2 separate regions of the Homo sapiens genome follow, and region 2 is linked to region 1. Evidence: fine-mapped expression QTL. A gene starts in region 1. The other region holds a variant in brackets. All regions are shown on one strand. Distances are between the middles of the regions.

What was found.
Region 2: its variant is fine-mapped to the expression of TCERG1L in thyroid (GTEx, PIP above 0.99).

What each region holds. Positions count from the first base shown.
Region 1 is chr10:131,309,663-131,314,048 of GRCh38, forward strand. It overlaps TCERG1L (transcription elongation regulator 1 like), which reads right to left and starts at 2,059. Exons shown (of 12, transcript NM_174937.4): 1 at 1,632-2,059. The coding sequence starts at 1,973. LOC101927461 (a long non-coding RNA gene) reads left to right here and starts at 2,194. Exons shown (of 3, transcript XR_242763.6): 1 at 2,194-2,612.
Region 2 is chr10:131,200,598-131,204,983 of GRCh38, forward strand. All of the region lies in intron 4 of TCERG1L (transcription elongation regulator 1 like), which reads right to left. It overlaps LOC105378563 (a long non-coding RNA gene), which reads right to left. Exons shown (of 5, transcript XR_946484.1): 4 at 3,922-4,386; 5 at 1,956-3,657. Among named protein-coding and RNA genes, the nearest start is that of TCERG1L-AS1, 110 kb to the left of the region's middle. The variant G/C (reference allele first, on the strand shown) is at 2,450.

The DNA.
Region 1 (4,386 bases):
TATAGGCAGGCTTAGGGCTATATTTTATAATATTCCTTTCAGCATTGCATTTTGTATTAATTACTTTTGTCGTTTTACAAATAACTAATACTTTCAAAATGAAAATATCTAGGAAGTTAAGATTCCAAGTTTCACCAATACAAGGTTCACCAATACAAATAGATTCTATGGCAAAAAAAAAAAAAAAAAAAAAAAAACTAAGCATCTTCTAAGTTGAAGATCTCAATACACAGAATAAAACATCAGTCATGGAAAGGGGCTGGTAATTCAGGGCACCGTCTCTCTAATTAAAATAACTGAGACCTCATAAGGCACTAATAAAATGCATTGCTCAATGACATGGAACGTTTCAGTACCTATTGTTTTAAAATCGTAAAAGCATTTGTGATGTTCCTGTTACATGAAAATGTTCTTCTGGTTGTACATATTCTTACTTTACAGAAGCTGGGTAGCACAAAAATATTTAAAAGATTAATGCTAAGGTTTTTTAAATTTTCTTTTAAATTTATATAAGTGAAAAAATGCAGTTTTTTAAAGCAGAATTTAAAAAATGTAGTTCCTTGACATTATATACCTCTAGTGGCAGCACTCTGATATAACACCCCTCCAAAATACGGCAAAAACTACCAACGTTTCTTGAATAAAATCCAAAATAAACTGCATCACACATAAAAATACAATATCCAGTGCTGCATATGTGATGTATCATTAAGTCTAAAGACCAATTTAGCAGGAGTTTAACAACATCTTTTAGAAAAGCTCACAAGATAATATTGGAATTAAATTAATCAAATGGTGTATTCTAACATAACACCCGTTTGAATATGCTAATGAGGTCAATCCTTGGAATAAAATGCACGCTATTCCCTGATTTAAATGCATCTGCATAGTTAGCTGACAATGAATCTTGCCCAAACCAGCCCGCCTAGCTCTGCTGCACCATTTATCAAAGGTTCAGTCACTTTTTCTTTTTAATCCCATGTCTTAAAAGCCAAACTCTAGTTCTAAAGTGCAGTGTGGCATTAGCGAATGTGGTGGACTCCGGCAGGCCTGGGGCAGGGGAATCTCCGGTAACATCCCTCAGTACCGAAGGCAGGATTTCCCGGCCACTTCCGTCGGTTGGAATTCTCTTAAGCATTGCCCTGAGTCTATTTTCAAATGAAAGGGGGAAAAACCCAAACCAGATTAGAATCTGAAACAGCTGAAACAGCTATCGATTTCCAGCTTGCTTTCAAGTCTGGCAGAGACTGTGAAAGTCCTAACTTCTCCGCGATGTCAGCCACGGCCCGCGGCGGTCACGGAGCCACTTCAGCACCTCGCGATGGACAGTGACCCCCGGCGTGGCGCGAGTTCCCTGCGGTCCCCACGCGGGCCTGGGCGGCGGGTCCCTCCACGGCTCCGTCCAGACACCCGGAGGCACCTGCCAAAGCTGCGGAGGTGGACGACCGGGCGTCCAAGCACGAACTTTCTCGCCGAGGCACGGCTGCCGGGCTCCGTCCTGAGGGTTTGGGGCGGCGAGGACCGCCGGGGAGGAGGGCGCGCGAGCCGGAGGCCAGAGCCGGGCCGGGCAGGGCGCGCCCAGGAGCAGGGGAGACGGCGACCCGGGCCGAGGCGGGACGGGGACACGTTACCTGCCCGTGGAGCGCGGGGAAGGGGTGCGCGGCGGCGGCGGCGGCGGAGTCTGGCGCAGAGGGCAGCGGCAGCAGCGGGAGCACCGGCTCGCTCGGGGCCGGCCAGCCGGGGAGACCGGGGAGCAGCGGGGCCGCGGGCGGCGGGGCCGAGGCGAGCAGCACCGGGGGAACCACGACCCCCGCGCTGAGCCGGAGCAGCCCGGCCGAGCCCGGCACCATCCAGACCCAGGGCGGCGGCGGCGGCGGCTCTGCGTCCATCGGCCAGAGGAGAGGCTGCCGCCGCCGGGGCTGCTGCTGCTGCAGCTGCCGCCGCCGCCGCTGGAACCTGGCGCCCGCCTGCATCCTACATCCCCGCGCTGACGGCGGCGGCGGGGGCGGCGGGCGCCCGAGATGCTGGGCCGGCGGCGGCGCGGCTCCGGAGCGAACTCACTTGGCTCCGCGGCGCGGCCGCTCGCTCCGCCCCTGCCCCGCGCGGGAAGCTCCTCCTCCTCCCGCCCGCGCCGCCGCCGCCCCCGGACCCGGCCCCCGCCCCGGTCCCCGCCCGCCCGCGCCCCTCCCCGCCGGACCCCGCCCCGCCCTCGCGCTCCCCGGCCCTGGCCGGGGTCTCCTCCCCGCTGCGCCCCTGGACCCGGGCGGCCGCGGAGGACGTGGGTGGGAGAGGGCCGAGGGCGCGCCCGGCTGGGCTCCCGCCGATGCCGGCCCCCTGGTGGCCTCTGGCCCTCTGGGACCCAGCGCACCGCGAGGGAGGCTCCGGGCTCCGCACTCAAGGGCAAGCGGAAGCCGAGGTGGCGGCGCCGGAGCCAGGCATGTCCCGCTGCCCAGCGCGGGGCTGAGGGCGCAGACGGGGACCGCGCGAGCCGCTCTCTACCTGGCCTCCTCGGAGTCCAGGGCGCGGAGGGTACTGGGCTGCGGATCCGGCGCAGGCGGCCCCGGACGCTGCTAGGCGCGGGCGGATTTCTGTTGCACAAATGGGCCAAACAGGTTCGTAAGGCCCCCGCGGGTCCCCTGGCCCGGAAGTTGAGCCGCGGGTGCCTGGTCTGAAGTTCCGCGCCCCACAGTGGCCCGCGGGCCTCGGCGGCTCCTGCCCTACGCCCTCCAAGGCACCAGGCAGGTGGCCCCAGGGCCTTTGCCCACGACACCCCCTGGGTGGGGCAGGACCACCCCTCTGTGAATTCGTCCTGGATGCCCCCAGGCACAGTCTGTACTCCTCCCTCCCCCAGCACACGCGGCCTCTGACGCTGCACGCCGAGCTTCCTGGGACCCAGGACGAACCGGGCTCCAAGGACCCTCGCTCCGCCCGGACCACACGCAGGCAGCGCCGGCCGAGCCGAGCCTGGGTCCGCACTGGCCACGCGCAGCCACCGCCAGACGGCGCTAGCCCTCCCCCGCTGTAGACCCTGCTTCGGAGGCCGCCAGCCTCCTCCCCATCCCGGGTCCACAGCTTCAGTGCAGCCCCTGGCGACGCGCGCTGACAGCTGGGCAGAGACTTCCGTGCGCTGTAAACCCCTTAGGTCGCTAAACCCAGGAAACCCAAGCACAGCTAATGCCAGCGCGAGACCAGTGTTGTTAGAGGCATTTGAAGGGTCTTTCTGGATGCAAAAGGCAGCATTATGATCCATGCATTTAAGAACTTGCATGAAAAACCCTCCCTGACCTGGGTGGGAGAGCAGGCACCCACCCACCCAGCGGCACTGACACGCCTGGTACTCCAAACCCGTGTTCGCATCACCTCCCACCTGTCCACTGCCAACCTCCTGAGATGGCCTAAAGCACCCGAGTGCTTTTAATTTGCGTCTAGGGTTGTTTCCTCATTATCCTGATTTGCTTAATTTCCTCTTGGCCTGGCCTGATTTCTTTTAGATCTGGGCATATGCTGATTTACATAGCTGGCGCCTCCATATTTTCCTCCACGAAAACCAGTTTTCAATTAGCAAGTTTATCTCTCTCTTTGATGCAAAAGTACTGGCATTTTTTTTATTCACCTAAAATCAGAAAGCTCTGCACATTAGAAGGCTGTTACTATTCACTTACACCCTTAATTTATGTGCATATATTAGTATGTGCACATGTGTTATAAATGTGTTAGTTTAATGGTCAGAGCCAGATCAGGATATTGGGGAGGCGTCTCCAGGCAGGCTCACATGCCCCTGCCACCCCCCACCTCCCCCACCGCATAGTCCCTTTTGCACAGGAGATTCTCCTTCCTTCTGCTTGGAGGCAGAGACAGAAGGCCAGGGGTGCTCGTGCCTGGCTTGCATGCTGTTCTCTGCAAAAGCAGGGTTTTGCGTGTGTGGCCCCCAGGTTCCTGGGAAGGTAGGGTTGGCCACAGTCTGTGGGAGCTGTAGCACTCCTTTGGGGAATCCCAGCCCCATCCCCACTGTCCTAGAAAGGGTTCTGCTGAAGTCCGTTTTTGCCAGCACCCCTCCGGGCTTCCTGATGCTCTGAGCTCAGGACCCCTTGAGCCACTACTTGGCTCTGAAGAAGAGCTGGAAAGTCGAAAGCAGCTCTTGACTCAACCACAAAGCGGCCTAAACTCTTGCTATTTCCTGCCACAAGCTTGACTCTCCTTTTGTATGACAATGCTTGGGAGCCCTTTTCTGTACCATTCTGTGTGCTAAATTATGGGAAAACAGCCCTCAACGACGCAGGCACGGCCATTTCCACTAATCGTTGCTAGGGCCAAGGACCCAGCACAGGGCTTCTCCCCCTCCTCCTGGCTCTCATTTCTGTCAGATTCTTTTCAAGGTTTGCCTCT
Region 2 (4,386 bases), 110 kb before region 1:
AGCTGGAGGGAAATTTTCCTCGGAATAAATCACACTTTGGGTCTCACTCATATGATGTTTAAAAGACTCTGCGCTTTTGAGTTGATGCTAGAACAAGTTAAAACGTTTGGAATTACTGAAATGGAATGAATGTATTTTGCGTGTGGGAAGGACTCAAGTTTTGAGGGTCAGAGTAGAATAATATAATTGAATATGTCCCCTCTAAAATTTAGAAGTTAAAACTTAATGGTCATGTGAACACATTAAGAGGTGGGGCCTTTAGGAGTCGCTTAGATCACAAGGGATCCTCCCTGGCAAAGGGGATGGAGGCCCTTATAAAAGAGGCTTCTCGCACGGTTATCTCCCACTTGCCTTTCCCCCTCCTGCCAGTGCTGTGAGGACACAGCCTCCCTCCCCTCGGGCGGATACAGAATCACGGCGCCATCTTGGACGTGGAGGGCAGCTTTTGTGGTCTCATGACCTGTTAAAGGCCGTGCCTCTTGACACCATCACACTGGCAACTAAGTTTCAACACATGAAACGTGGAGGGGACACATTGGAACCATCACAAGAGGTGAAAGAATTCCTGAGAGTCAGGCCCACCACCCGCATAGCTGGCTTTGCCTCCCTGGAAAGTGAGCCCCCAAAACACATCCCACTAAACTCAAACTAAATGAAGCACCTCCCTTCCCCCAGCTGGGTCCTGCCACACCTACAAACACTCCACCACCACCCACAAGGCAGGGACAGCGACAGAGAGGGTCACGCTGGGAACAGACAGCAGCCTTCCTGAGGCCATCGAACATCCGCAGATTTTACACAGACACGTGATCGTGGGAGCACAGCGCCAAGAGTTCCCCGGGGTCTCGTAAGGCGCCAAAAAGGAGGGTCCCAGTACTTCAGTTTCATTCATTCATTATGGACCCGTCACTGCCAATGTAGAATTGTTGCTTTACTTACTATTTTAACAAACGCCACAATCTTAGAAGCTCTTAATAAGCATGATTTAAATGGCTGCAAATAAAAAAATATATAAAAATAAAATAAATCAATGGCTGCCAAATATTTCTACAAAACATGGACTGCAATTTGCTCTGCTGCTGCTGTTGGGCATTTGGACTTCTTTTTTATATTTAATCTCCGAATTTTACACTGCATTCTGTGGGATGTCCTCATGCGTCCTTCTCTGCGGGACTGTAATGACCTTCTAAATGCTCAGCTGTGAGTGAGTTTTTCAGAGCTGCCGGCTTTGCTAAACATGGCTGCTCTTTTACCCCACGTCCACCACCACGCTGTGCTGAAGGCGCATCCATCGACCTTCCTCAGAGACGAGGAAAGAGCCAATGAAAGATGCTAGAAAGCTCTAACAAGTCCCAGGGCCACGTGGGGGTCACGGGGGCTGGTTCTCTCCAGATCCTGTAATGCGTTTCCGATGACTGCTCCTTAGGAAAGGTCCCATGGACAGAACTGCTGGGTTAAACAGACAAACTAATTAAGAGTCTCGATTTATATTAATCCATTTCTTTCCAGAAGCGTTGTACCAAACTGCATGATCACCAGCTGCACGTGAGCCTCCCGACCACATGAAGGAGCACAGAGAACGTACACGCTCAACTGATTGTAACAGCCCACGTTAGAAACAGACTGATGCCCCCAAAGCAAGTAGGTATGCGCATGTCTGCACCGTGGGGTACCACAAAAGCTGGTAAGGCCGGAACTTTTTCGCCGGGCGCGGTGGTTCATGCCTGTAATCCCAACACTTTGGGAGGCCGAGGAGGGCGGATCACCTGAGGTCAGGAGTCCGAGACCAGTCTGCGCAACATGGTGAAACCCCATTACCACTAAAAATACAAAAATGAGCCAGGCGTGGTGGCGAGTGCCTGTAATCCCAGATACAGGGAGACTGAGGCAGGAGAATCCCTTGAACCTGGGAGGCGGAGGTTGCAGTAAGACAAGATCATGCCACTGCACTCCAGCCTGGGTGACAGAGCAAGACTCCATCTCCAAAAAAAAATAAAAATAAAAAACAGATTTTTTCAAGTTCACTACATTTTGGTCTTTAAGGTACACTGCTAAGTAAAACAGTAACGTAGCGGAATTCAAGTCAATAACATCCTCTCCACATTTTCAGGAATCCATAGGCTTGCATGGAATACACTGGAAATATTCTGATTATCTGATTATCAATAGAAGTTTCCAATATGAGAAGAATAGGGTTGGGAGGAGCTTGATTCTATAAGCTTCTAAATTGTTTCCATTTTTAAAATAAAATATGTTCATTTTTTACAGTTTATTTAGAAAAAAGAAACACTTAAATAATTAAGTCTGCCGTCTGTGGAAACGTACACCTCAGTTTTGATTGCTTCATGATTCATATTAACCAGGTGCCATCCTAAGTGGAAGTTTGAGTGAAGAGGTTTATTCTGGTTCACAGATTGTGGGGACAGAAGTCAAAGGTCACGCCGACACC[G/C]ATGTGCTTGATTTATCACACAGCTGCCAGGAATTCCACTTACAAATTCAAGAACCATAGACAACAGCCCTCAAAGCTTTTCAATGACAGCAGTGACGCCTTCTCAGGAGTAGTGACAGTGTTCATGGATATGCGTATACCTGTCTTCAGCCCTCCGAGCTGCGCTCTCTGGGTTACAGAGCACAGCTGGGTGGTAGATGACCTCACTTAAGACTTCCAGTACGTCCCACTGCACTCTCGCATGGGTGACAGAGTGAGACTCCGTCTCAAAAAAAAAAAGACTTCCAGTATGTCACAGTGGTGACCTTCATGGTCTCGTCACTTAAGATCAGCTCACTGTTTAATGAGGCTGATGACAAAAAAGCACCCTAAGACCTCTTTGACCAGACAGCAAACTGCCTCTGGTAGAACATCCAAGCTGGCCCCAATCACAGGTGCTCACGTCTCTATTTTAAGGGAATGCATGCACAGGACTTCTCAGCCTCATGGGAAAACGCCCCCGTCATGTCAACCGTTCACATTCGAAGATGGTGCGTCTCTCCCATGAGGATGAATGTGGGTCACCGCAAACGATTCAGGGACACATCTGCTTCTGGTTTGTGGCCCTGCCATACCGAGTTTCAGAGAGGTTGGAATCCAGAGGCCAGTAGGGGCCGGGAGGTGGGGAAGGCACTCTCCTAACTGCTGCTTCTGCTCACATCCCGCCGGCGAGCGCTAGCCCTGGGGGCAGCCTGGGAAATGTGATGGCAGCCTCCCTAGCCACTTTCCACTTCAGACCTCCTCCAAGTGGGGGGTGGGCATCTTAAGGGGACAGCTGGCTGTCTCCACCGCAACCCAGCTGGGAGGGGAGAGGCGTGATGTCACATTAGGTCACACTAGGGCATGAATACGTGAGTCCCCACAAAACCCCAAAGTAGGAAGCTAAGCCCCAATAGGACGATATGAAGAGGTGAAACCTTTAGGAGATGTGAAGTGATGAGAGCAGAGCCCTCATGGATGGAATGAGCGACCTCATGGAAGGCCCGAAGGGAACCAGCTAGGCCCTCTTAGCCCTTGCTCCCTCCTGCCATGGGAGGACACAGCAAGGAGGCGCCATCTTGGAAGCCTGGTGGCTTAGCACTGGGCCTGGGCCTAGCTAGGGTCTTGGCAGCTCTCATCAGGCACCAGATCTGCTGATGCCTTGGTCCTGGACTTTCCATTCTCCAGACCTGTAAGAAAAGCATTTCTCATCTCTATAAATTGTCTAGTCTAAGAGTATAGAGGAGCGGGAACAGACTGAGACAGGTCACAAACCAGCAAGTGGGCTGGCCCGATGGCCCCACCACAAGCAGGCTCAGGAAACTGGCACCTGCCCCCCCACCCTGCCCCCGCATCTACATGGCCTCCATATGCACAGCTTGAAAATGGGGATGAGGATGAGTCCATCCACCCCAAATGCCAGAAAGCACCTGTCAAAGCCATTTCCCATGTACAGTGGAGAAACTGTCCGTGATGGTGGGTCCTGGCTTCCCAGCAGCGGTGGCCACAGTCACTGTGTGGGCTCCAGTGGGGCACGGAGCCAGCTCAGATCCAAAGGTGTGTGTCCTCAAATCAAAGGACATCTGTCCAGTGTCCTTCCACTAGAGGCTAAAATAAACCAATGAGCCTGCGGGTAAGGGAAGAATGTTTCTTGGGGCAGAAGACTCCCTTCAGGGAGAGGCCCCGATGGCAGTGGACTTGTCCCTCAGCCCCTTCACAGCCTGGCCCCAGGCAGAACAGGTTGGCTGGAGAGAAGAGCCCACCTCTCGGTTTTATGAACAGGCAGAGGAAGGGATCCTTGATGGAGGTTCACACCATCTCTGACCACAAGCCCAGTGGCCTTTCTGCTTGAAGTCCAGGGTCTTGACCATGGGGTCAGGGCTCACGTGCTCTGCAGCTGGATCTGGTCTAAGGCCCCT